4 separate regions of the Homo sapiens genome follow, and all the other regions are linked to region 2. The links come from fine-mapping of genetic effects on gene expression. A gene starts in region 2. Each other region holds a variant in brackets. All regions are shown on one strand. Distances are between the middles of the regions.

The links. PIP is the estimated chance that this variant, and not a neighbour inherited with it, causes the effect. A credible set is the group of variants that fine-mapping cannot tell apart.
Region 1: its variant is the best candidate, but not a certain one, in a credible set for the expression of ST14 in B cells (Schmiedel 2018, PIP 0.59).
Region 3: its variant is the best candidate, but not a certain one, in a credible set for the expression of ST14 in cerebellar hemisphere (GTEx, PIP 0.88).
Region 4: its variant is the best candidate, but not a certain one, in a credible set for the expression of ST14 in nasal epithelium (TOPMed, PIP 0.87).

The regions. Positions count from the first base shown.
Region 1 is chr11:130,543,547-130,549,603 of GRCh38, reverse strand. It overlaps the pseudogene BAK1P2. Among named protein-coding and RNA genes, the nearest start is that of ADAMTS15, 98 kb to the right of the region's middle. The variant A/G (reference allele first, on the strand shown) is at 3,293.
Region 2 is chr11:130,156,258-130,162,314 of GRCh38, reverse strand. ST14 (ST14 transmembrane serine protease matriptase) reads right to left here and starts at 2,533. Exons shown (of 19, transcript NM_021978.4): 1 at 2,255-2,533. The coding sequence starts at 2,335. RefSeq lists an enhancer at 798-1,297 and silencers at 2,385-2,454, 2,535-2,654.
Region 3 is chr11:130,205,952-130,212,008 of GRCh38, reverse strand. It overlaps ST14 (ST14 transmembrane serine protease matriptase), which reads right to left. Exons shown (of 19, transcript NM_021978.4): 17 at 3,325-3,599; 18 at 2,431-2,567; 19 at 1,647-2,347. The coding sequence ends at 2,186. Among named protein-coding and RNA genes, the nearest start is that of ST14, 49 kb to the right of the region's middle. RefSeq lists an enhancer at 1,900-2,399. The variant C/G (reference allele first, on the strand shown) is at 2,670.
Region 4 is chr11:130,190,564-130,196,554 of GRCh38, reverse strand. ST14 (ST14 transmembrane serine protease matriptase) reads right to left here. Exons shown (of 19, transcript NM_021978.4): 7 at 5,861-5,991; 8 at 2,267-2,406; 9 at 1,818-1,915; 10 at 107-216. Among named protein-coding and RNA genes, the nearest start is that of ST14, 34 kb to the right of the region's middle. The variant G/A (reference allele first, on the strand shown) is at 4,090.

The DNA of each region.
Region 1 (6,057 bases), 390 kb before region 2:
CCATTTATTTCAAGACCCTTCTTGGGCATCTTTTCCACTGCCATTTGTAGCTGAGCTGATTGAGAAATCAGGGTAGTCAAGTTACAGATGTAGCCACTGGCTGGGGATCAACCTAGACTCATGATCTTTTGGGGTCATGAGGTGAATGGAGAAGACTACTTTCCCTATACTTGGTCTATGTCCATGAACTCCAGACTTTAGGGGAATTGCTTTATATTAGCCAACTTAATGTCTAAAGTGCTAAATAAATAAACAGGTAATCTCTGGGGCCAAACTGCCAAAAGTAGCTCATACCTTCCTGCCTCCTAGAAGCCCTTTCAAAGAGGACATCAACAAACAGGTCGTTAGGAAAAAGCAAAATGTGGCTCACTTTGCAAATCTCACTTTTCCTTCAATGCTTCTTTGTCCCTATGGATTTCAACTCACTCCATTTGACATTCTCAGTTCCTTTGATAAGAAGTTCTTAGAAGCTTATGGCAACTCAGACCCGCTGAATCTGGAGGCAGGTCTGTAGGAATTCTGGTAATTAGTTAAACAACCTTGAACAAGTTGTTTCACTTCTCTGAGTCTCAGTTTCTCACTCAAAAATGGTGAATAATTTGTAAGACTTCGCTAATAATCTACGACTCTACAAGAGGCAATAGGGTACTGTGGACAGAGAGCAGGCTTTGGAAACACACAAGACTGGGTTTAGATTCCTGCACTCCACCCAGTGTGTGACTTGGCCAAGCTTCTTCACTTCTCTAAACCCCCATCTGTGTATCTGTACAGGAATGAATGAATGAGTATGTGCAGCCAAGCTATGCAAACTCCAGGTTAAAATATTGCCTTGGGTTTTTTAGTAAATTGTTCAAGCCCATGACATTCTAGCAGAAAAAGCCTAGTGTCTCTTTCTTAAGGTGATTGTGTCCATGTGTTTTCCAGGAACTCTAGGGTTTACTCAACCCAAATTCACCCTGCCCTTGACCAAATGGCTCACCAGCTTCACGGATGCTGCTCTGATGACACACCCTGCAGTCAGCATCTGCCCCTGCAGCTAGAATGGATTTCTGAGTGGGCATTAGCTGGGGGATACCACATGGGCACCAATGTCACAGATCTTCTGTCACAGTCCACCCCGAACCATTGCTTCTCAAATCATAATCCCTTAGCAGGACAGCTAGGTGCAGCACGCATGACACAAACACCAGCCCTTGCCTACAATCTCAGCCACTATCTTGAGTCTGAGCAACTAGTCTAGTGGCAGCCGCGCCCTTCCTTTTCAAGAGAGTTCTGGGATCAGATCCTTTCACAAACAGATCCCTCCCCACCTGCCTGTTGTCCAGGTCTGCACACTGAAAAGTAAGACAGCATTTGCTAAGCCATATTTCAAAAAGTTTGCTTATACCTTCATCTCAGGACAACAAGTGCCTGCTTAAGAGCCTTATGTTTGTGTAACTGGTATTTTTTTTTCCCCTGACCTTCCAAGGCCTAGTCTACTTTCTCCCTCCCTAGCTGAACAAAAGTGAAGTTGAAATAATTTGAACTACCCCTTTTAGTGGGCAGCCCATTTGATTTTTACCTTAGCCAGAGCCTTAATTTGTCCATGTGAGCATAGCAGTACCTTGCAGCACCTGAGGCACAATACATTGTTTAAAGAGTGACAGTGCGTCCCATTCCAATAAGAACCACACTCAGAGCAAAGGTTCCCTCGCCTGTGTGGAGAGTGACCCATGGTAGAAAATTTGCAGACTTCGTTACCTCTTCATCAGTTGAAAAATCTATTTATTCATTTATGCATTTAATTTTCCCTATCTAAGCCAGGGATAGTCAAACATTTTCTGTAAAGGGCCAAGTAGCATGATAAATATGTTAGGCTCTGCAGGCCACTTACAGTTTTGTCATGTATTCTTTTTTGCTCCCTGTTTGTATTATTTTGTTTACAATGCTTTAAAAATGTAAAAAAACAGATGATCACTGGAGTCTCACGGGTCCCTCGGGCCACACAGGGACAAGCAAAGGCTACATCCAGATACCAGAAATGCACTGACGCCCGTTCCTGGAAGCTGGGCTCCCACTCAGCCCCTGGGAGCAGCAGCCTCCAGCCCCTTGGGACCTTCAACTCCACCCTGCTGACCCACGCGGGTTGAGCCAGCATCCCTGGAGGCTGACACTGTCCTCCACTGAGACCTGAAAAATGGCATCGGGGCAAGGCCCAGGGCCTCCCAGGCAGGAGTGCGGAAAGCCTGCCCTGCCCTCTGCTTCTGAGGAGCAGGTAGCCCAGGACATGGAGGGGTTTTCCGCAGCTACGTTTTTTACCACCATCAGCAGGAACAGGAGGCTGAAGGGGCGGCCGCCCCTGCCGACCCAGAGATGGTCACCTTGCCCCTCCAACCTAGCAGCACCATGGGGCAGGTGGGACGGCAGCTCGCCATCACCAGGACGACATCAACCGGCACTATGACTTCGGAGTTCCAGACCATGCTGCAGCACCTGCAGCCCACGGCAGAGAACGCCTACGAGTACTTCACCAAGATCGCCTCCAGCCTGTTTGAGAGTGGCATCAACCGGGGCCGTGTGGTGGCTCTCCTGGGCTTCGGCTACCGTCTGGTCCTACATGTCTACCAGCACGGCTTGACTGGCTTCCTGGGCCTGGTGACCCGCTTCGTGGTCTTCATGCTGCAACAAGGCATCGCCCGGTGGATCTCGCAGAGGGGCGGCTGGGTGGCAGCCCTGGACTTGGGCAATAGTCCCATCCTGAACGTGCTGGTGGTTGTGGGTGTGGTTCTGCTGGGCCAGTTTGTGGTAAGAAGATTCTTCAAATCATGACTCCCAGGGGTGTCCTTTGGGGTCCCAGCTGTGACCCCTGCCTGGACTTAAGCCAAGTCTTTGCCTTCCCCACTCCCTTGCAGGGGTCACCCTTCAAAAGTACAGAAGCTCTAGCAAGTGTGCACCCCCGCTGCGGAGGGCCCCTGCGTGGGGGCCAGTCAGGCTGCGGAGGCACCTCAACATTGCACGGTGCTAGTGGGCCCTCTCTCTGGGCCCAGGGGCTGTGCCCTCCTCCCTTGGCTCTCTGGGACCTCCTTAGTCTTGTCTGCTAGGCGCTGCAGAGGCTGATAACTTGGGGAAGCAAGAGACTGGGAGCCACTCCTCCCCAGTAAGTGTTTAACGGTTTTAGCTTTTTATAATACCCTTGGGAGAGCCCATTCCCACCATTCTACCCAAGGCCGGGATGTCTGGGGTGTGGGGGTTGGTGGGTCTACACTACGTGCCCCAGGATTCAGCTATTCTGGAAGATCAGAGCCTAAGAGCT[A/G]GGACTTGATCCTGGTCCTGGCCGTCCCTAAGCATCATGTGTCCCAGGAGCAGGACTGACTGGGAGAGGGGGACCAAGGTCCTACCCAGCTCTCCCCGTGCCCCCATTCCTCCCTCCGGCCATACTGCCTTTGCAGTTGGACTCTCAGGGATTCTGGGCTTGGGGTGTGGGGCGGCGTGGAGTAACAGGCCAGAGCTGTCTGAACTTATGTGTCAGAAGCCTCCAAGCCTGCCTCCCAAGGTCCTCTCAGCTCTCTCCCTTCCTCTCTCCTTATAGATACTTGCTCCCAACCCATTCACTACAGGTGAAGGCCCTCACCCCCATCCCTGGGGGCCTTGGGTGAGTGATGCGCTAAGGCCCCTCCCCGCCCAGACTACAGGGCTTGGTTTAGGGCTTGGTTTGTTATTTCAGGGATAAGGAGTAGGGAGTTCATCTGGAAGGTTCTAAGTGGGAGAAGGACTATCAACACCACAGGAATCCCAGAGGTGGGATCCTCCCTCATGGCTCTGGCACAGTGTAATCCAGGGGTGGAGATAGGGAACTGTGAATACCTGAACTCTGTCCCCCGACCCTCCATGCTCCTCACCTTTCTGGGTCTCTCCTCAGTGTGGGGGTGAGAGTACCTTCTCTATCGGGCACAGCCTAGGGTGTTGGGGGTGAAGGGGGAGAAGTTCTTGATTCAGCCAAATGCAGGGAGGGGAGGCAGAAGGAGCCCACAGGCCACTCCCTATCCTCTGAGTGTTTGGAAATAAACTGTGCAATCCCATCAAAAAAAAAAAGGAGAAAAAAATGTAAAAAACATTCTTAGCTGTAAGCTACTTATAGGGGGATAAAGACAGGACTGTTAATGGACACAAACATACAGTTAGAGAGAAGAAATAAGTTCTGTCCAGGCGCGGTGGCTCACACCTCTAACTCCAGCACTTTGGGAGACCAAAGTGGGAAGATCATTTGAGTCCAGGAGTTCGAGACCAGCCTGGACAACATAGCAAGATCTTATCTCTACAGAAAATTTAAAAAAAAGAAAAAAACTAGCCGCACAGGTCTGCAGTCCTAGCTACTCGGGAGGCTAAGGTGGGAGAATCCTTGAACCCAGGGATTTAGTTTGAGGTTGCAGTGAGCTATGATTGCACCACTGCACTCCAGACTGGGTGACTGAGTGAGACCCTGTCTCAAATATAAAGAAGGAACAAGTTCTAGTTTTCAATAGCGCAATAGGGTGAGTGCAGTTAGCAACAACATATTGTGTATTTCAAAATAGCTAGAAGAGAGGATATGAAGTGTTCCCCAAACAAGGAAATGATAAACGTTCGAGGTGACAGATACCTTAAATACCCTGATTTGATCATTACACATTCAATGTATGTATCAAAATATTACATGTACCCCACAAATTTGTGTAAATATTATGTATCCACTTTTTAAAGTTGGCAGAGCCCAAAAGCACTACTATGGCTTCCAGTGGTCACTGTGAGCACTGCCAGCTCAGCAAATGTATCACCCAAAATCTGGGCAATGTGGGAAATTGGCTTCATGGCAGCTATGGCTTTGCCACTGATAGGAATGATTTCCAGAGATACTTAATCCTCAATTCGGGACTCTTTGCTTCAGGAGTTTGGCTGGCCAGGAACATGAGTGACAGTGACCTCTTGGCACTTCAGCTGGGGGTGTAGCCAAGCAGACAAATGGAATCTTGTGCTGAACCCAAACCTTCTAGAAACAGAGCCTGTGAGCATCACAAGATATGCCCTGATGGAAGCTGAAGTTTAATTCAGCTGAGCGCTTGCCCCTTTCCAACCTGGTTTCTTTTTGTTCCTTGAGTCCAGTCAGAATGCCATTCCCTGGCCAGCAGCCAGCCTTTAGTGACTGTCTCTGTTCTGCAAAGCTCTGTATATAGTTACTGAGTTTCTGCAGGGGGTGATCTTTGCTCTTGTCCTAAGAAATAACTACAGTGTTTTAAGAAATATTTGAGGCCGGGTGCAGTGGTTCACACCTGTAATCCAGCACTTTGGGAGGCCAAGGCAGGTGGATCATGAGGTCAAGAGTTTGAGACCATCATGGCCAACATGGTGAAACCCCATCTCTACTAAAAATACAAAAATTAGCTGGGTGTGGTGGCGGGCACCTGTAGTCCCAGCTACTCGGGAGGCTGAGGCAGGAGAATCGCTTGAGCCTGGGAGGCGGAGGTTGCACTGAGCCGATATCACGCCACTGCACTCCAGCCTGGCGACAGAGTGAGACTCCATCTCAAAAAAAAGAAAAAATAAATAGTTGAAATAAAGACTGCACATAAAGACAAAAAAAAAGTTTATAAAGTTAAAAAATAAAATAAAAAACAGGCTCCAGGCTGGATTGGGCCCAGAGGCTGTAGGACACAGACCCCCAGCCAATGACTTCATAAATCCGGATGTTAATCAGCCTCACCTGGGAATTTGGGGAGGGGACTCATTTTAAAACAGTTTCCTGGATTCTAACCCAACCCAGAAAATCAGACTCTTTGAGCTAAATTCTTAAGCTCCCTGGTGATGATGATGGAACCAGTTTATGGCTGACCCCAGAGTCACGTCTGAAAGACGTGCCACATCCCTCTCTCTCCAGCCTCCCCTTCTCCTCCATTCCCCAGGGAGAATTCTTTTACCTGCTTCAATACTATTGTTGAGCAATCTCTATAAAGCTATACCCTTCTCTCTTCTAATACATTCTTGTCTATCTGCTTACCAATTAAACACATGTACTTTATATTTTAATACTCCTTTTTAATAATA
Region 2 (6,057 bases):
TGCTTGCAGGCAGGGCTCACACCATCCCCAGATGCAGTAACGTGCATCAGGACTCTGAAGGCCACGCAGAACACTTGATGGGAACAGCAGGGGTGGGGCAGGGGCCACACCACCAGCCTTGGGAAGGGGACAGCCAGATACAAATACCACCAAACAAGGGTGCACGGATGGATGCAACTGGGGACAAGGAACCCAGAAACAACAGCACCCTGTGGGCCAGGCTCTGCTGACCCAGATAATAAACCCAGGGGCAGCAGCCACACCTCCCGGCCGGGGATGGACATCCTAGCTGCAAACACACACTACAGGGTGATCCCAGGGACTGGGATTTCTGGTGAGGCCAGGGATGGGAGGAATCTGCAAGACATGGAAATGAGCTTTGGCCAATTTCCTCTGGACACTCCGCCTCACAGCTAACTTTGGCATTCGTCTCTTAGTTTCGCTCTCAAGACTGGATGTTCTTTAAAGGAAACAACCACATCTTACTGGTCTCTGAGAGCCTTCCCTTCACCCATGGGACTAGGTACTGAGTTAGTTCAATAAAGCTCGGCAGGAGAAAAGACAAAGAGCAAGCCAAGAGAATGAAAATGGCAGAGGGGGAAGGAACAGCCCAAGGGCGCAGAGAGCAAATGAGCTTCGCAGAGGAGGAGGAAATGAGCAGGGATGGGGGAAACTAAAGCCAGGGCTTGCAGGTGACAAGACAAGTCCGCTGAATGTGGGATCCTGGGGGTGAGTGGAAGGTGAGCCCCAGCCTGGCTGCTTGTCAGGTGGTGAGATGGCTCAGAGAGGAGGCTGGACCACACGACCAGGAAGACCCTGCTTTCCCCGTGTGGGCAGGAGAGTCCTAGAAAGGGAAGTCAGGGAGAACAAACTTGGGGTGGGGGCACCGGACTGCCCTGAAATAACAAATTCCAAACAGCAGGTTCTCTGCTGAAGAGGCAGGGAGTCTAGAACCCCAAGTAGGCAATTAGCAAGGACACAAACATAGCAATTACAGCAAGGAAGAGAAGGTGAATCTGCCTCACAGCAGGGCACAGGCACAGCCAGGGGAAGGGCCCAAGCCTTCAGGTCCACTGGAAGCTTTCCTCCTTGCTGAGGGTGAAAAGTGGAGAAAATAGCAGAGCCCAGCCCCAGGTCCTGTCTGTGGTGCAGGCAGCCTCCAAAGCCCCAGCGTCTGATTTTCTGCAAGCTCCCTAGGTCGGGATGCTGCTTGGACAAAAGGAATTGATCTGAGACAGCACCAAAATCAGGCCTGACTTAGGGAGCAACGGCGGAGACTATGGAGCCCAGGGGCACCCGGAAGGAGGGGAGAAAGTGAGGGTTGGCAGGGCAGGGAGGCCATCATTTGCAGAGGAGCAAAACTCTCTGCCACACAGCCCCTGCCTCTCAGCGCCGCCCTGACCTGGTATGCCCTGGCCTTCCAGGAAACCTGGGGGTCTGCCTTGGACAGAGAGGGTAGAGACCTGGCTGCTGGTCCCGCCCGGGCACTACCACCTAGGTGGGTCCGTCAATGAAGTGACTAGCGACCCATCCCCAACTCCATACAGGAACATGTAATCTTTTTGAGATCTTTCAATAGGTCTTTCATTGTTCTTTCTGCCAAAGAAGAGCTTCCTGTTTCGGTACTTCGCAAAAGGCTCAAGACATGTGTGTTCCCACATCCCTTCCCATACAGCCGCCTTCCCAAAGGGCTCCATCCCCTCTCGAGAAGCCCAGGCAAGCCCAACTCTGGAGTTCTTAGCTCCAGCCCGTATGGCAGCCAAAGCCCTGGCCTCCCAGTTGTCCTCTGCGAGGTCCCAAAGCGCCTTTTGACGGGGAAGGAGAGAGACGAAAGAAACTTTCTGCAGAGGCCAAGGATGGCTGAGACTCCAAACCCTCCTGAAATTTCACTTCCTCCCAAATAACCCCACTCCAAGCCCCTGGTTTCTTCCAGATGTTCACTAACAGCGCGAGAGTCATGGAGGGGCCGAGACGGAGCCCCTTTTTTCAACTCAGGGAAAGAAAGGACCGAGGGCGCAGGAAGGCCCAGGGGCTTCCCGCCTCCCCCTGGCGGGGCGCAGCCGGTCCGGTACCAAAGGTCCGGCCAGCCCCGCCCGCCCGCGGCCCGGCACCCGCTGAACAGGAAATTCCACCTGTGCGCCCAGAGCTCGGCCACCGACGGACACGCCAGGGGAGCCGGCCGAGCCCAGCGCCGCGCTGCAGGGTCGGGCGGGCAGGAGCTTCCCAGCGCCCCGGGTCCCCGGCCCGCGCTCACCTCGTGCCGGGAGTTGTACTTGAGTCCCGCGCCGAAGTCCTTCGGGCCCCCTCCGCCCTTGCGGGCCCGATCGCTCCCCATGGTCCCCGAGGCCGCTCGCGGGTCTCACAGGCGTCGTCCCTGCCGGCGGCCGGCTCCCATGGCCCGCAGGGCGCGGGGCGCGGGGCGCAGGCGGCGGGATTCCGGGCAGGCCCAGCGCGCCCGACCGGCGGCGGTGCCCTCGCCCTGGCGCGCTCTCTCTCCCTCTTCCTCTTTCTCCGGCTGCAGCTCCGCTCTCACACTCCGGCCCGGCCCACGCAGGTAGTTTCAGGGTGTGGCCTCGGCCCGCCCAGCCCGCCGCGCTCGCCTGCGCACCTGCCCGGCTCACCTGCCCGCCCCCGCCGGCCCTGGGGGAGGCTCCTCCCCTCGGCTCTGGGCCTGAAGGTGAGGGGGCCTCACTCGGGTGGTGGTCGCTAAGGCCCTCACCATCACCACGACGGCGTTCACCACCCCTCCGGCCCTCCAGGGGCCCTGCCCCGGGAGGGCAGCCCTTTATCCACCTCCTTGATGCCAACCATCTTTTCCCTCCTCCCTCATGCGCCTCCGGTCTCTCCCCTTCACCTTGCTCACTTTGCTACAGGACTAAATCGCATTTATGAACCCCCCAAAACCAAACAGAAACCAGAACCGCCCCTGGCCCAGGCTCCCCGTCGGCTACGCAGCCTCCTGTTCTCCAGGCGGGAGGCGCTTGCTGGCCTGCGCCCGGCTACCCTGGGGAGGCCCAGTGACATGAGCTGTGCCACCAGATGCCCTCTGAGCCATCCCAACGCCCCTCGCCCACTTGCAGCATCTGATGCTTCCTCAAATGCCCCCTTTCCCTGGATTCCGGTCCTCCTTTCTAGTCCTAAATGTCATGATTCCCAAAGTTCTCCCTTCAGTTTCATCCCTTTCTTCTCTAAGCTTTTTCTCTTGGCAGCACGTCTCATCTTACGACTTCAGACAGGAAGACCTCCCTCCCAGCACAGACACCACCAAGGAGTGCCAGTTCTGCCTTAGCGGTCGCCTGGGGACGTCTCCATTTATGTTCTACTGTATTCTGTAGCCAATGAACATTACCAAGCACACACTAGGCGCTAAGCACTGTCCTGGGTACAGGGAAACAGGAGTGAACAAAATAAAAATCCCTGCTTTGAGATCAACAAGCCCCATCTTCCTTCCCTGACTTGCCCATTTTCCACTGTTTTCTCTAATTCTAATGGCAGCATTCTCCCAGGCTCAAATCCTGGAATCATCTTTGATTCTCCACCCTGCTTACATCTCATATCCAATTAGTTCCAAATCTGATCAAGACTCTGCTGACAAGCATAGCCCTTCCATTCCTGCGCATTAGAAGACCGCTATTCGAGTCCTCAGAGCCCTTTGCCTGGTTAAGAAAGATCTCCTGCCTCTGGGCTGCCACCCTCTGATCTCTCCTACACAAAGCAGTCAGGTAAATCTGAAACCACAGCTCCTTTATGACTTTCCGTGTCTCCCGGATCAAATCCAACCTCCTTAGCCCAGCTTCACACTCTGCCCTGTCCTCCCTTAACACCGTGCCTCCAAGCATTCCTGTTTGGAGCCCCTCTCTCCAGCCAGGCGTTCTGATCTTGGCAGCTTTCATAAAGCTTTTCATCCCCTGGAAGCTCTTCTCCTTCATACTCCTTCCGCATATTGGGTCGAAGACACCGATGGGGTTTTTTAGTGTTGTTCATTGAATGTTTTTAGCTCTCTGCCTTCTGGGCACAGGCCAGGGTGTTACTCTCTCTTCTCTGAAGTTAGGTATGGCAGTATGGCTAGCGGTAACCAAGAAAATGTCCAATGAGAGGACACACCACTTGTACATAGCAGCATAAGGAGGCACTGCACAATGCCCTGCTCTCTTCTGAGAGGTTTAACTCTGTGACCTGTGACCCTAAGTGGCTACAATGACACACACTGGATATGTAGCATGAATGAGGAGTCAGTCAGCTTTTGGGATGTTAAGCCACCGAGAGCTGAGGGTTGTTTGTTATTGCTGCAAACCTCACGCTTCCTGACTGATATGCTACCTCCTCCCCAGGAGTTTCCTTCCCTCTCAACCAGAACTAGCTCTGTTTGTACCTCTCTCATGGAGCTCACCACCATTTCGTTGCATTTTCTGTCTGTGTCTTAACTGCCTTTGCACCCTCAAAGCCTAGCACAATGACTAACACAATATATTGGGTCAATTTAATTGAAAGAAGAATGAATCTGCTGCCTTCCATCACATAAAGCATTCCAAAGCTAAACAGAAAATATTTCTAAAAGGCTGGCACGTTGGCTTCCAGCACTTTGGGAGGCTGAGGTGGGTGGATCACCTGAGGTCAGGAGTTTGAAATCAGCCTAGCCAACATATAGTGAAACACCATCTCTACTAAAAATACAAAAATTAGCTGGACATGGTGGTGCATGCCTGTGGTCCCAGCTACTTGGGAAGCTGAGGCAGGAGAATTGCTTGAACCTGGGAAGTGGAGGTTGCAGTGAGCCGGGATCATGCCACTACACTCCAGCCTGGAGCGAGACTCCATCTCTCAAAAAAAAAAAAAAAAAAAGAAAAGAAAAAAAAGAAAAAGAAAATATATAAAAATAAATTTTCCTTTGGATTACCAATGGCACAGCATTCTTCAACTAGTGTGAGTGATGGAAAGTAAGCCAAATTCAATGTGACGTAAATGAGATGGTACTCCTGACACACAGACCTTCTGTGCTGCTGCAAACGCAGTGACTCACGTTGTCTCCCCACTTCCTAGGGCCTCATCTTTTATCTCGTAGAGCTGGGCGCTCAGCGTGATTTGGATGCCGTATGAATGCAATGCATTGACTGCTAGTGCAGATGAAGAGAAAGCGATGCAGGACAAGACCCTTCCCCTAGGATGGCTGCATGGGGATACCTTGCTGCATGCACCCTATGTGCACTCCTGGGTTGGAGGAGGCAGTGTAACCATATGTTATTCCATGAATCCCATTTGGTTTAATCCTCAAAAAATTATGAAATGTCAGTGCTTTTGTTCCTAAATGGTAAGTGAAGGAACCCAAGAGCAGACAGCCTCCAGAACAGGACCAGATTCTCACACTCACAAGGAACAAATCCAACTCAAGCCCAGATTTTGGCTTGAGGTCCGTGTCATTTCTCTGCTATAGAAAGAGTGACTCATGACCAAATGACCCAACCTTCACCACCCACTGTGCCTTCTCCACCACCCCCTCACTGGCCCTTCCCCGGCCCCAGCACTGCAAAGCTGTCATCGCTCCTCTCCAGGGAGCCATCCTCTTCCTGGTTCCAGGACTGCCTGCTGGGAAAGTTACATCTGTGTCCCTGGGACCCCCTCAAGGGCATGTCCAACAAGCCCCTATGTCCTTGTGGCCGGGACCACTTAGAAGGTGTGCAAATGTGGACCTGCCCACAGGCTAAAGGACACTGGCTGAAGCTGGTGACAATGTGGGAGACAGTAGGGCCATGTGAGGTAGGCCCAGCCCAAGTGTGAAACAGCCAGTGCTCTGGTACCATCCAAGGCGGGGAGACCAGAGCAGCTTGTGCCAGGCCTGCAGGCGACTCATGCTCCTTCAATAAAGAAGAAAAGTGCAAACAGCAAAGAGGTGTGGTAGAGGTTGAGAATGAACAGAATAAAGTCAAATGAACCGGTTATGGAGCTGGCATCCATAAATGTACCTAAACCTTCTGAAACAACAAGGTTTATATGAATTCGACACCTAGAACCACTTCTGCTTTTGTCTTGGCACAGCCCTCATGCTTCCCTGTCAAACAT
Region 3 (6,057 bases), 50 kb before region 2:
GGGGGAGTGAGCAGTCCAGAACACTGTCAAGCCACAATGGAGCTGAGGGTGGTGCAGTGGCACGGGCTGGGCTGGCCTCCCTGAATCCCACTGCATGGATGACCATGTCTACACCCCGGCCAAGCCCCGGCTGCCAGGCTCACGCACACTTAGGAACCAGACCACACACAGGCCTCGTGAAACCTCTCCATTTAACATAGACCATTCCCTCAGCGCCTGCACTGGGCACTTCTGTCCGATGCGATCAGGTGGGAATGACCATGTCAGGGCAGAAAAGGAATGACATTTACAACACGCACAGGAGTCCTTCAGCATCATCCTCATTCTACTTCCCACGCCTTGGTAAGAACAGATGTTCTTTCCCTCCCCAGGGAGGAAAATGCGACAGATTCTCGCACAGGTTCTAGGCAACACTCCCTCCCTCAAAGAGGTAAAACACTCAGGCTAAAATGAAAGAGGCTCTGCAAACCCCACCTCCCCCGAGAAGCCTTGCAGTGTTGCTCCAATCAGACTATATTTCCTCCTTTTTGTTTCCATAACTCATGGCAGGCAAAAAACCATTCATTGAACAAACACATATCAGCATGTTCTAAGACAAGCCTGAGCTGGGGACATAGCGGTGAGCCAAGGCTACCTTCTGCCCTCCTGACACTGGCCATGTCATTTCTCTCCCCAGGTCCTCTTCCCTGCCCCAAGCCCATGTGGCGCATCAGCATACAAGAAGCCCTCAAATGTTCCCCCAAAAGCTCCCTAAGCCTTCCCCAGATTGTTGACATTGTCCCTTCAGGCCACCAAGCAAGAAGAGAGGAAATATTTTAAATTATTAAGTAAAAATCTAGGGAGGCTGGGGGTGGTGGCTCAGCACGAGCCCAACACGGGAAGATGACTTGAGCCCAGGAGTTCGAGACCAGCCTGGGAAACATAGTGAGACCCTGTCTGTACAAAAAAAAAAAAACAACTTAGCCAGGTGTGGTGGTGGGCACCTCTAGTCCCAGCTGCTCAGGAGGCTGAGGCAGGAGGATAGCTTGAGCCCAGGAGACTGAGGCTGCAATGAACTGTGATCATGTCACTGCATTCCAGCCTGGGTGACAGAGCAAGACCCTGACTCAAAAAAAAAAAAAAAAGAAAAAAGAAAAAATCAAGGGGGATGGCACGGGAGGTGTGGGTGCCCTTCAGCCAGGCAGCACCCCTCCTCCAAGGCCTTGGGACCCATCTGCTCAGCCTTCACTAGAGAGACAGCCAGGTCTTCATGCCCAGACTCACATCTGTCCCCGTGAGTGTGTGCGCTCACAGGGCCACCTCCCCACCAAACACGAAGCCACGCTTCCGCCCATCTTCCTCTGACAAAGCTCCTCCCTCTCCTAGGTTGGACCCAGGCCTGGGCACCAGTGCACCCCCCAACATTCGTCTCCCCACCTCGCCAACCCGCATTTCCCTCCTACCAGGGCACCAGGCCCCTGGTCTTGGAAGCTACAGGTCAGAGCAAAACCAGCCCCTTGCTGGCCTAGAGAAGGCAACGGCACTGTGGGCCCCACCCAGCCTGACTCCAGGGTCTGTGCTGAGGGGAATGTACATCCAATTTCTTGCAAATCGAGTAGGAAAAAGGAGGAAGGAGGGCGCAACTCCAGTAGGAAAAGAAACTTACCTAAAAAGAAATAAAATGTTTTACTCATTTACACAAATACACACACTGAAGTCCACCCTGGGAGCTGGTAAAACAATTTCAGTCTCAGACCCGTCTGTTTTCCAGGGTCCTCCGAGCCTGGGCTTCCTCAAGAGCGTGGCCCAAGGGCCCCACAGCCCAGATCCGGCAGCCCCACCACCTTCACTGAGGAGGCCCCGAAGCTCCGTTCCCGCTGCTCCTTAGAGACAGGGGAGGCAGATATGCACAAACGCGCCTCGGCCCAGCTTGGGGCTGGCGGGGGAGGCTGTGTCTTCAAACCTTTGCCCCCAGTTGGGTCAGTAGAACCACCAGTGTCCTCCCCTTCTACCTCCCAGCTCCACTTTGGAGGCTGAGGAAGCGAGAGGTTTTCTAGGCAGATTTGGAGCCCTGGAGATTGAGTTCACAGTGTATGTTCTGGGGGCGCTGGTGCAGTCAGCGGTCCAGTCTCCAGCCTGCAGGCGTGCACACTGGGGTGGACGATGGGTGGCCCCGCAGGTGTACACATTTGGGTGGCCCCGGCCCCTATACCCCAGTGTTCTCTTTGATCCAGTCCCGAAACAGAGGGAGCCTTGTGTACACGCCTGGCTTGTTCCTCTGAGCGCAGCCGTCTCCCCAGCTCACCACACCGGCCTGGAAGATCCGCCCATCCGCCTCCACGCTGGACAGGGGTCCCCCGGAATCACCCTGGGCGGAGACAAGCCCTGCCGTGAGTCCCCAGTCCCGCCTCTCCCGGGGCCCACCTGCCGCCCTCCTGCCCCGGGGGCCACCTGGCAGGAGTCCACGCCGCCGCTGAGGAAGCCCACGCACATCATGCGCGGCGTGATCTGCTGCGGCAGGAGGTTCTCGCAGGTGGTCTGGTTGATGACGCGGATCTCACCCTTTTGCAGGATCAGCGCGCCAGTGCCTGGGGAGAGGGCAGGACGGGGCTGAGAGCCGGGCTGCTTCGAGGGCAGCGTCATTCGAGACGCTCCCCACGGGTCATTGGACTAGAAAACTCTGGAACAGC[C/G]CAGATGCCCGGGGCTGACAAACGGGTAATCCGCGTCTACTCAGTGGGCTCTGGCAATAGCAGCCACCTAGAGGAAGCAGGGGCATGCTGAGATCTGCCAGGCGAGTTGAGAGGGAACAGACGCCGTGGCAAGCAGGGGTGAGGGAACAAGAAGCAGAGAGGCGGAGGGAAGGCGCCGCAAATGCCCGCGGGGTTCTGTGAGGGCATTGGAGCTGTAAGTCCTGTTCGTTTTCTTTCCTCTCCAAAGACGACAAATGTTCAGCATATGCTGTACAGTGGATTCTTTCAATCTAGCATTTGCCAACTAACGGCCTGCTTCCCTTCATACCCACCCCCTCACGTGCCTTAAGCACCACTGGGCTTAAGGTGTTGCTATCTTCATTACGCGCATGCACAAACAGGATCAGAGCTTAAGCAACTCGCTCAAGGTCACTCAGCTAGTTAGGGGCAAAGCCAACCTTCAATCCTGAGCCCAGGCTGCAAATCCCATGCCCCTTTTACTAAAGGCCTCCATTCCGCCCTGGACAGCCTCATTCTGCCAGGCAGAGGGAGACTGGAGCAGCCCCCCGCCCCGAGACCGGACACGCAGAGGAAACACGGCCTTGGAGAAAGGCCCCAGGCCCTCTGCGGAGCCCTAGGTCAGCCCGAAGCTTACCTCCATACTGGGTGTGTCCCCAGCCCGTGACCCAGATGGCCTTGCCGGCAGGGAAGACATGGGAGGCGTCCGGCAGGCAGATGGGCCGCACCATGGAGCTGTACTCTGCCGGTTTCTCCAGCTCCAGCAGCGCGATGTCATAGTCGAAGGTGAAGTCATTGAAGAAGGGGTGGGAGATGATGCGCTTGAGCCTGCGCTCCTGCACCCCAGGGGCGCTGCGCTGGCTCTGGTCGTGCAAGCCCAGGAAGGCCGTCCACTGCGTGGGGTCTGAGTACCTGGTAGGGAGAGCCGCTATGAGACTGCGCGGTCACTCGGGTCTGTGCACACGGCCTCGCGGCCCCGCGCGTTCCCAGAGGATTCCGCATGGATGAGGCACAGCTGCTGCTACGAGAAGACGATGGGGCCGGCTCTTACTTGGTCTTGACCCTAAGCTAGAAACTACTAAGTGCCTCCAGCTGCAGTATGAAATCCCTCTTGAACTCTTTACCCCCCCTTCCTTGAATACATTTTTAATCTGATGACCAAAAATTAGTTATCTTACGAACCTGATCTTTCACAGGAGGAATAACAGAACAATCAATCCAAATAATTTATTTATTTATTTATTTATTGAGACTGAGTCTCGCTCTGTCACCCAGACTGGAGTGCGGTGGTGGCATGATCTCGGCTCACTGCAATCTCCACCTCCCGAGTTCAAGCGATTATCCTGCCTCAGCCTCTTGAGTAGCTGGGATTACAAGTGCACACCACCACACCCAGCTAATTTTTGTATTTTTAATAGAGACGGGATTTCATCATGGTGGTCAGGCTGGTCTCGATCTCCTGACCTTGTGATCCGCCCGCCTCGGCCTCCCAAAGCGCTGGGATTACAGGCGTGAGCCACCACGCCCAGCCCAAATAAATTTTTAATGTAGTGCTATATAACCTAAGACCAAAATGAATTGAAAAATATGTTGTGTTGTGTCTAAGTTTGTTGCTGGCTATGGAATAGGTTTAGCAATTCAGAAGCTTTTCCACGTGCACTGCAGAGCCGGAGCCCACCCCACTGGGGGGAAAGGGAGGCACAGATGTGGAATGAGATCAGAGATATCAGGAAAGGTTCATGGTTTTTATTTTATTTTATTATTATTTTTTGAGACGAAGTCTCACTCTGTCACCCAGGCTGGAGTACAGAGGTGTGATCTCAGTTCACTGTAACCTGCACCTACCAGGTTCAAGCGATTCTCCTGCCTCAGCCTCCCGAGTAGCTGGGACTACAGGCATGTGCAGCCACGCCTGGCTAATTTTTGTATTTTTAGTGGAAACGGGGTTTCGCCATGTTAGCCAAGCTGGTCTCAAACTCCTGACCTCAAACGACCAGCCCACCTTGGCCTCCCAAAGTGCTGGAATTACAGGCATAAGCCACCGTGCCCGCTGGCTCACAATTCTTAAAAACTGGCCTAAAACCAATACTGTCTCCAGCAGCACCCAGAACTTAGTGTCTAAATATCCTTCTCTATTGAAAGGAACCAGGGCTCCTTGGAAAAACAGCTGATTTCGGATCTGGGGCTTAATGGGAAGCATAAAGCAACCTGGAACATTTTGTTTCTGCAGGAAGCGATCGAGCACTCAAACAGCAATGCGGCCTCACAAAGCTGGCTAAAGTTAGGACAATAAGAACCCCGAAATAAGTGGTGACAGGGTGACACTACTACACAGGTGGAATAATAAAAAAGGGTGGGGTAATCCATCAGTCCACCCTGAGTCTAAAAAGTAATTTCAAAAGAATTTATACAGGGAAAAGGAAAGCTATTCTTTACAGAGAAAAAGCAGCCCCTGGCCGGGCATGGTGGCTCACTCCTGTAATCCAAGCACTTTGGGAGGCCGAGGTGGGTGGATCGCCTGAGGTTAGGAGTTCAAGACCAGCCTGGCCAGCATGGTGAAACCCCGCCTCTACCAAAAACACAAAAATTAGCCAGGTGTGGTGGCCGGTGCCTGTAATCCCAGCTACTCAGGAGGCTGAGGCAGGAGAATTGCTTGAACCCAGGAGGCAGAGGTTGCAGTGAGCCAAGATCGCACCACTGAACTCCAGCCTGGGCAACACAGTGAGACCCCACCTCAAAAAAGAAAAAAAAAAAGAAAAGAAAAGAGAAAGAGAAAGAAAGAAAGAGTGAGCAGCCCCTAAATGCTGAAGAAACGGTACAATAAGGAACCACATTCGCGCCTGCCACAATAATAATCAACAATGTGAGAATCACCAACGGACGCTGAGACGCCGGGCAAAGTACGGCTGGAGAACGAGACACTCACGCTGATTCAAAGAATCACCTGCAGTGTAGTCACGACCAAGGGGGAAGCCCCTTTATGATGGCGAAACCTGTTGGGCGTCCCGAGCCAGGTGCTCAGCCTCCTCTCCCGACCAGCCCCCTTCACGGGGGATCCTGCTCTCCCCGAGTAGGGTACAGCACCGCCCGCGCACTGCTTCCTAACTCAGCCATGAAAACACAGTCGGGAAAACCCAAATTGAGAGGCATCCTGTAAGATAACTGGCCCGAACTTTTCAAAAATGTCAATGCCATAAAAAACCAAAAAATAAAAGGCGTAGAGAAACTGTTCTTGATTAAAATGAGGTTAAAGAAACCTAATGACTAAATACAAGGCGTGACCCTTGACTGCATCCTAGGACTTTTTTTAAAAAGCTCCGAAGAAGGCTGGGCATGGTGGCTCACGCCTGTAATCCTAGCACTTTGGGAG
Region 4 (5,991 bases), 34 kb before region 2:
GGCACAAGGTGAGGAGGGACAGCTGGGAGCCGGGGGGCTGGGGGTCTGGTGGGACCCCTCCCCCTGCAGCATGGGCCCGGCAGCCCCCATACCCCCGGGGACTCACTTCTCCCCGTTGATCTCCACGTAGTCCTTGGGGCAGGTGCCCGCAGGCACGCCGGGCTCCAGCAGGTAGAAGAATTTGAAGCGCACCTTCACATGCTGGTTGTTGGGCACCTGAGGGAAGAGAGGCTGCTGGGAATGTGCAGTTCCCCTCCCTCCTCCCTGAACCTGAGGACGTCAAAGGGAGGCAGCGGCATGGACCAGGGAGAGATGGTATGCCTTCCATCACCAAGACAGGTTGCAAAGTTCTCCCAGCGTGTTTGTTTGTTTGTTTGTTTGTTTGTTTGTTTTTTGAGATGGAGTCTTGCTCTGTCGCCCAGGCTGGAGTGCAGTGGCAAGATCTCAGCTCACCGCAACCTCCGCCTCCCGGGTTCACGCCATTCTTCTGCCTCATCCTCCTGAGCAGCTGGGATTACAGTCACAAGCCACAACACCCAGATAATTTTTTTTGTATTTTTAGTAGAGATGGGGTTTCACCATGTTGGTCAGGCTGGTCTCAAACTCCTGACCTCAGGTGATCTGCCCGCCTCGGCCTCCCAAAGTGCTGGGATTACAGGCACGAGCCACCACACCCAGCCTCTTTTCTTTTTTTTTTTTTTTGAGACAAAGTCTCACTCTGTCACCCAGACTGGAGTACAGTGGCAAGATCTCAGCTCACCACAACCTCCGACTCCCGGGTTCAAGCTACTTTCCTGCCTCAGTCTCCCGAGCAGCTGGGATTACAGGTGCCCGCCATCACACCCGGCTAATTTTTGTATTTTTAGTAGAGACAGGGTTTCACAATGTTGCCCAGGCTGGTCTCGAACTCCTGACCTCGTGATCCACCTGCCTTGGCCTCCCAAAGTTCTGGGATTACAGGCGTGAGCCACTGCGCCCGGCCCTCCTGGCATTTTTAAAGAAAGGAAAGGGAGGCAGCTCTGGCTGGGATGGCGTGAGCGGCACGGACAGGCGACTCTCTTGTCTCACACACCTTCTTTGATTTCTTCCTGACGGCGCCTCTGAGACCCAGGCACTATCACCCTCACTTCACCTAGGGGCAAGCTGAGGCCCAGGGAGCTTCAGCAACTGCCCAGGTCGTTCCATCACCTGACAAGGAGCTAAGATAAGAGTCTGGGTCTGCCTGACACTGCAGGAAGACCTGACCCCACCCTGGGCCCTAAGACACATGGTCTCTTTGGGGTTTGTTTATTTGTTTTTGTTGTTTTTTGAGACAGGGTCTCACTGTTGCCCAGGCTGGAGTGCGATGGCACTGTCATAGTTTACTGTAGCCTTAAACTCCTGGGTTTAAGTGATCCTCCCACCTCGGCCTCCTGAGTAGCTGGGACTACAGGCATGTATCACCTGCCTGGCTAATTTTTGTAGTGTTTTGTAGAGATGAGGTCTCACTATGTTACACAGGCTGGTCTTGAATTCCTGGCCTCAAGTGATCCTCCTGCCTTGGTCTCCCAAAGTGCTGAGATTACAGGTGTGAGTCACGACATCTGGCTGCCTCTTTGGGGTTGATAAAGGATCTCCTCTTCCTTTTCTTCTGTCTTCCTCATTTGCCATCCACCTCTGTCTCACACACACACATACGCACACACACACACACACACACACATGCACACATATGCAAACACATGCACACACATCCACACACATCTGCACAGGGAGACACACACACGTGCACATACATGCTCACACACACACACGTTCACACGCCCCATAGCTCCTACCTCAATGTTCCATGTGCAGTCAATGTTGGGTGGGTAGTGGCCTGGGTAGTAGGGGCTGTTGAATGTCCCCTGGGCTTTACGTAAGCGGCCTCCACAGCCTGAGAGGGAAGGTGGGAGAAAGCAAGAGGATCAGGAACCTGCCCGGCCGAGCAGGCGGACGAGGGCTCTGCAGCCTGAGGCCTGGAGCTGCCTCCTGGACGCGTGGATGCTGCACAGCAGGTGCACAGCCAGGAAGGCCAGGTGCCGGGTGCCGAAGCTTCAGGAGGGCTCCTGACCCAGGCGGTCGGCCAGATGCCTTTGGCTCAAGCTTCAGCCTCTGCTGCTGACCTAGGCCAGCTCGCCAACCACAGGGTCTAGCCTGTGGCCTCCTAAGCTCAGGTCACCCCCACTAAGGCCTTCCCCTTCTCTGTGGCCCGAGGGCAGTCCCGCCCTGCCCTGCCCTTCCTTACTGCTCATCCTAGGCAGCTGGAAGAAGGTGGCCTCAAAGCCGGGATGCCGCCGCTCAGTGTTGGTTATCAGTGTGATGAGCAGGACGTTCTGGGAGGAGTGGAAGGTCAGGTTGTAGGAGGGAGGGTAGGTGCCACACAACCTGTGGGGGCAGAGGGCGGGCATTAGGAAGAGCAGACAGAACCCAAGCTTCTCACACACCCAAACCAGGCTCTCAGGCAGAGGTGCCTGAGGACCCCACCCCTAACTCTGGTCCCATCCACAGAGGCCAAGAATGGAGTCAAAAAGACCTTCATTCAAGTAAGTCCCTCCCCCACACAATCACTGATGGAAGGCGCTAGTGATAAACAGTTCACCTTTGTCACAATCACTGATGGAAGGCGCTAGTGATAAACAGTTCACCTTTGTCACAATCACTGATGGAAGGCGCTAGTGATAAACAGTTCACCTTTGTCACAATCACTGATGGAAGGCGCTAGTGATAAACAGTTCACCTTTGTCACAATCAAAGAGCAACACCCAGCCGGGCGCAGTGGCTCACGCCTATAAACCCAGCACTTTGGGAGGCCAAGGCGGGTGAATCACCTGAGGTCAGGAGTTCGAGACCGGCCTGGCCAACATGGTGAAATCCCATCTCTACTAAAGATACAAAAATTAGCTGGGCATCACGGTGCACGCCTGTAATCCCAGCTACTCCAGAGGCTGAGGCAGGAGAATCACCGGAACCCGGGAGGCGGAGGTTGCAGTGAGCCGAGATCGCACCACCGCACTCCAGCCTGGGCGACACAGCGAGACTGTCAGAAAAAAAAAAAAAGAGCAACACCCTAGACACAATACATGCCCACAACAGAGGATTTATTAAATAAACTGTGGGCTCAATCAGAACAACAGCAGTAGTAACAATCAACATTTATTAAGAACATGCCAAGGTCGGGCCTATAATCCCAGCCTGTTGGGAGGTCAAGGCAGGAGAATTGCTTGAGGCCAGGAGTTTCAGACCAGCCTGGGTAACGCCTCATCTCCATAATCAAAAAAACTAGCTGGGCATGGTGGCGCTTGCCTGCAGTCCCAGCTACTCCGGGGCAAGGCCAGAGAACTGCTTGAGCCTCAGGAGTTCAAGGTTACAGTGAGCTATGATTGCGCCACTGCACTCCAGCCTGGGTGACAAGGAGACTCAAAAAAAAAAACATGCCTGGCATGGTTCTCGGTGCTTTTAAATCTATTAACTCATAATCTTCCTAACAGCTCTATGAAGTAGATACTATTACCCCTATCTCAGAGGTGAGGAAACTGAGACACAGAGATGTTCAGTAACTTGCCCAACATCTCATGGTTAATAAGTGGCAGGCTTAGAATTTAAACTCAGGCATTCAAGCTCCAGAGTCCACACTGCTCACAACCATGTCATCCTGATTGTGTCCCCTCCTTCTAAACAATGCAACCTTATAAAAACCCTGAGAGAGAGGGTGACTGATTTGGAAAGACCATCATAATATACTTCATTTGTTAAAGCAGGTAATGAGACTGAATGCACGGGATAATCCTATTTCTTAACACACACACAGCAAAAAAGGCTGGGAAAATAGACATCAAAAATTTGGCCGGGTGCTGTGGCTCACGCCTGTAATCCCAGTACTTTGGGAGGCCAAGGCAGGCAGATTGCCTGAGGTCAGGAGTTCGAGACCAGCCTGACCAACATGGTAAAACCCCATCTCTACTAAAAATACAAAAAAAATTAGCTGAGTGTTGTGGCGCATGCCTGTAATCCCAGCTGCTCGAGAGGATGAAGCAGGAGAATCGCATGAACCCAGGAGGCGGAGGTTGC[G/A]GTGAGCCGAGATCTTGCCACTGCACTCCAGCCTGGGCGACAGAGCGAGATTCCATCTCAAAGAAAAAGAATTAACAGTGGTTATTTCTAGACAGTAAGATGACGAGTGACTTTAGTCTTCCTTTTGCTTGCCGATTTCCTTCTCCCACTGGGAACATGTACTTCTTTGTTGTACAATTAATAAATTAGAGAGATGGAAAAGAAGTCCTGGTTACGAAGCTGTGGCGGCAGATGGTTCTAGGTTGTTCTTGGCCTGAATTTTAGCCCATTATTAATCAGGAAACGTCCGCCGAGCTCATTTCCCTAGACAGCCACGGAAGGCTCTGGCCCAGCGAGTGCAGGAGAGGCGGCTCACCCACCACGCACAGCACCTCTGCGAGGTACGCCCCACCCTGACGTGGGGTATCCCACAGGTGCATTAACCACGCCTTTCCGTTTTCTGTAATGCAGGTGCTTTGACATCTGAGGCCCTGCTGACTGTGGAAGGCTGGCCAATGCTTAGAGATAGGAAAGGACTCACCTGCAAGCAAACCTTCCCTATGCAAACCCACCTATGGGGGCCCAGCCCCACCTCCTCCGAAAGGATCTCACACTCAGGGCCACTATTCTTTGCCCTAACCACCCCAGGCCCAAGTATCAGAGAACTAGGGACAGCTCCTATGCCCCGGAGCCTACTGAAATTATTCAAACAAGCCAGTTCTAAACCTCTCACCCTGATTTGTCTTGCCTTTTCTGTGTAAACCATATAAAGGCTCTTTTTTTTTTTTTTTTTTTTTGAGACAGAGTCTCGCTCTGTTGCCCAGGCTGGAGTGTAGTGGTACGATCTCGGCTCACTGCAACCTCTGCCTCCCAGGTTCAAGTGATTCTCCCGCCTTGGCCTCCCGAGTAGCTGGGATTACAGGCGCCCGCCACCACACCCAGCTGATTTTTGTATTTTTAGTAGAGACAGGGTTTCACCAGGTTGGCTTGACTGGTCTCAAACTCCTGACCGCAAGTGATCCAGCCGCCTTGGCCTCCCAAAGTGCTGGGCTTACAGGCGTGAGCCACCATGCCCGGCCCATAAAAGGCTCTTGCTTACATTTTCCCCTCATTCCTGTTACCCCTTGACCAACCTGGTGTTTCCTCATGTGGCCTGAGGCAGGTTCTTTCTCTGTTGCCCAGGCTGGAGTGCAGTGGTGCAATCACCGCTCACTGCAGCCTCGACCTCCTGGGCTGGAGATCCTCCTGCATCAGCCTCCTGAGTAGGCATGCGCCACCACACCCAGCTAAGCTTTTTATTTTTTATAGAGGCAGAGTCTTGTTGCCCAGGCTAGTCTCAAACTCCTGGCCTCAAGAGATCCTCCCGCCTCAGCCTCCCAAAGCGCTGAGATTACAGGCATGAGCTACCGTGCCCGCCAACAAAATTGTCTTTTCAAGAGCAGTCATCTCCTGATCTGTTGGCCTTCATATCCCTGAATAATAAAGCCTACATTTTACAACCGTGGGCAGTGCCTTCTCTCCGGCGGTTCAGGGCACAGGCCGCACAGGCTGGATTTGGTATCTGGGGACTATAGAGCCTTCCTCTGCTTTGCCAAGGCTGAGAAAAATCACCTCCCAGACTCCCCTGGAGCTGCAGCTGAGGATCACACCACACGTGCCTCCTGCTGCCTGGATGTTTAGCAGTGGCCTGCGGCCAAGAGTCATAAACTGTATCCCAATCGTTGAAGAAGCTGGCCCCCTACAGGGCAGCCGCCAAGCTCCCACAGCCCTACCCGCCCCCCGGGGTACTCACTGCACCAGGGCGTGGGGCTCCATGGGGCTCAGGGTGTTGTACACCGTCACCAGGTCGCTGCCGCGCTCGTCGCAGGACGCAAGGTCAAAGCTGCGGAAGGTGAGGCTCAGCACTGAGTCGGCGTCCCCCCG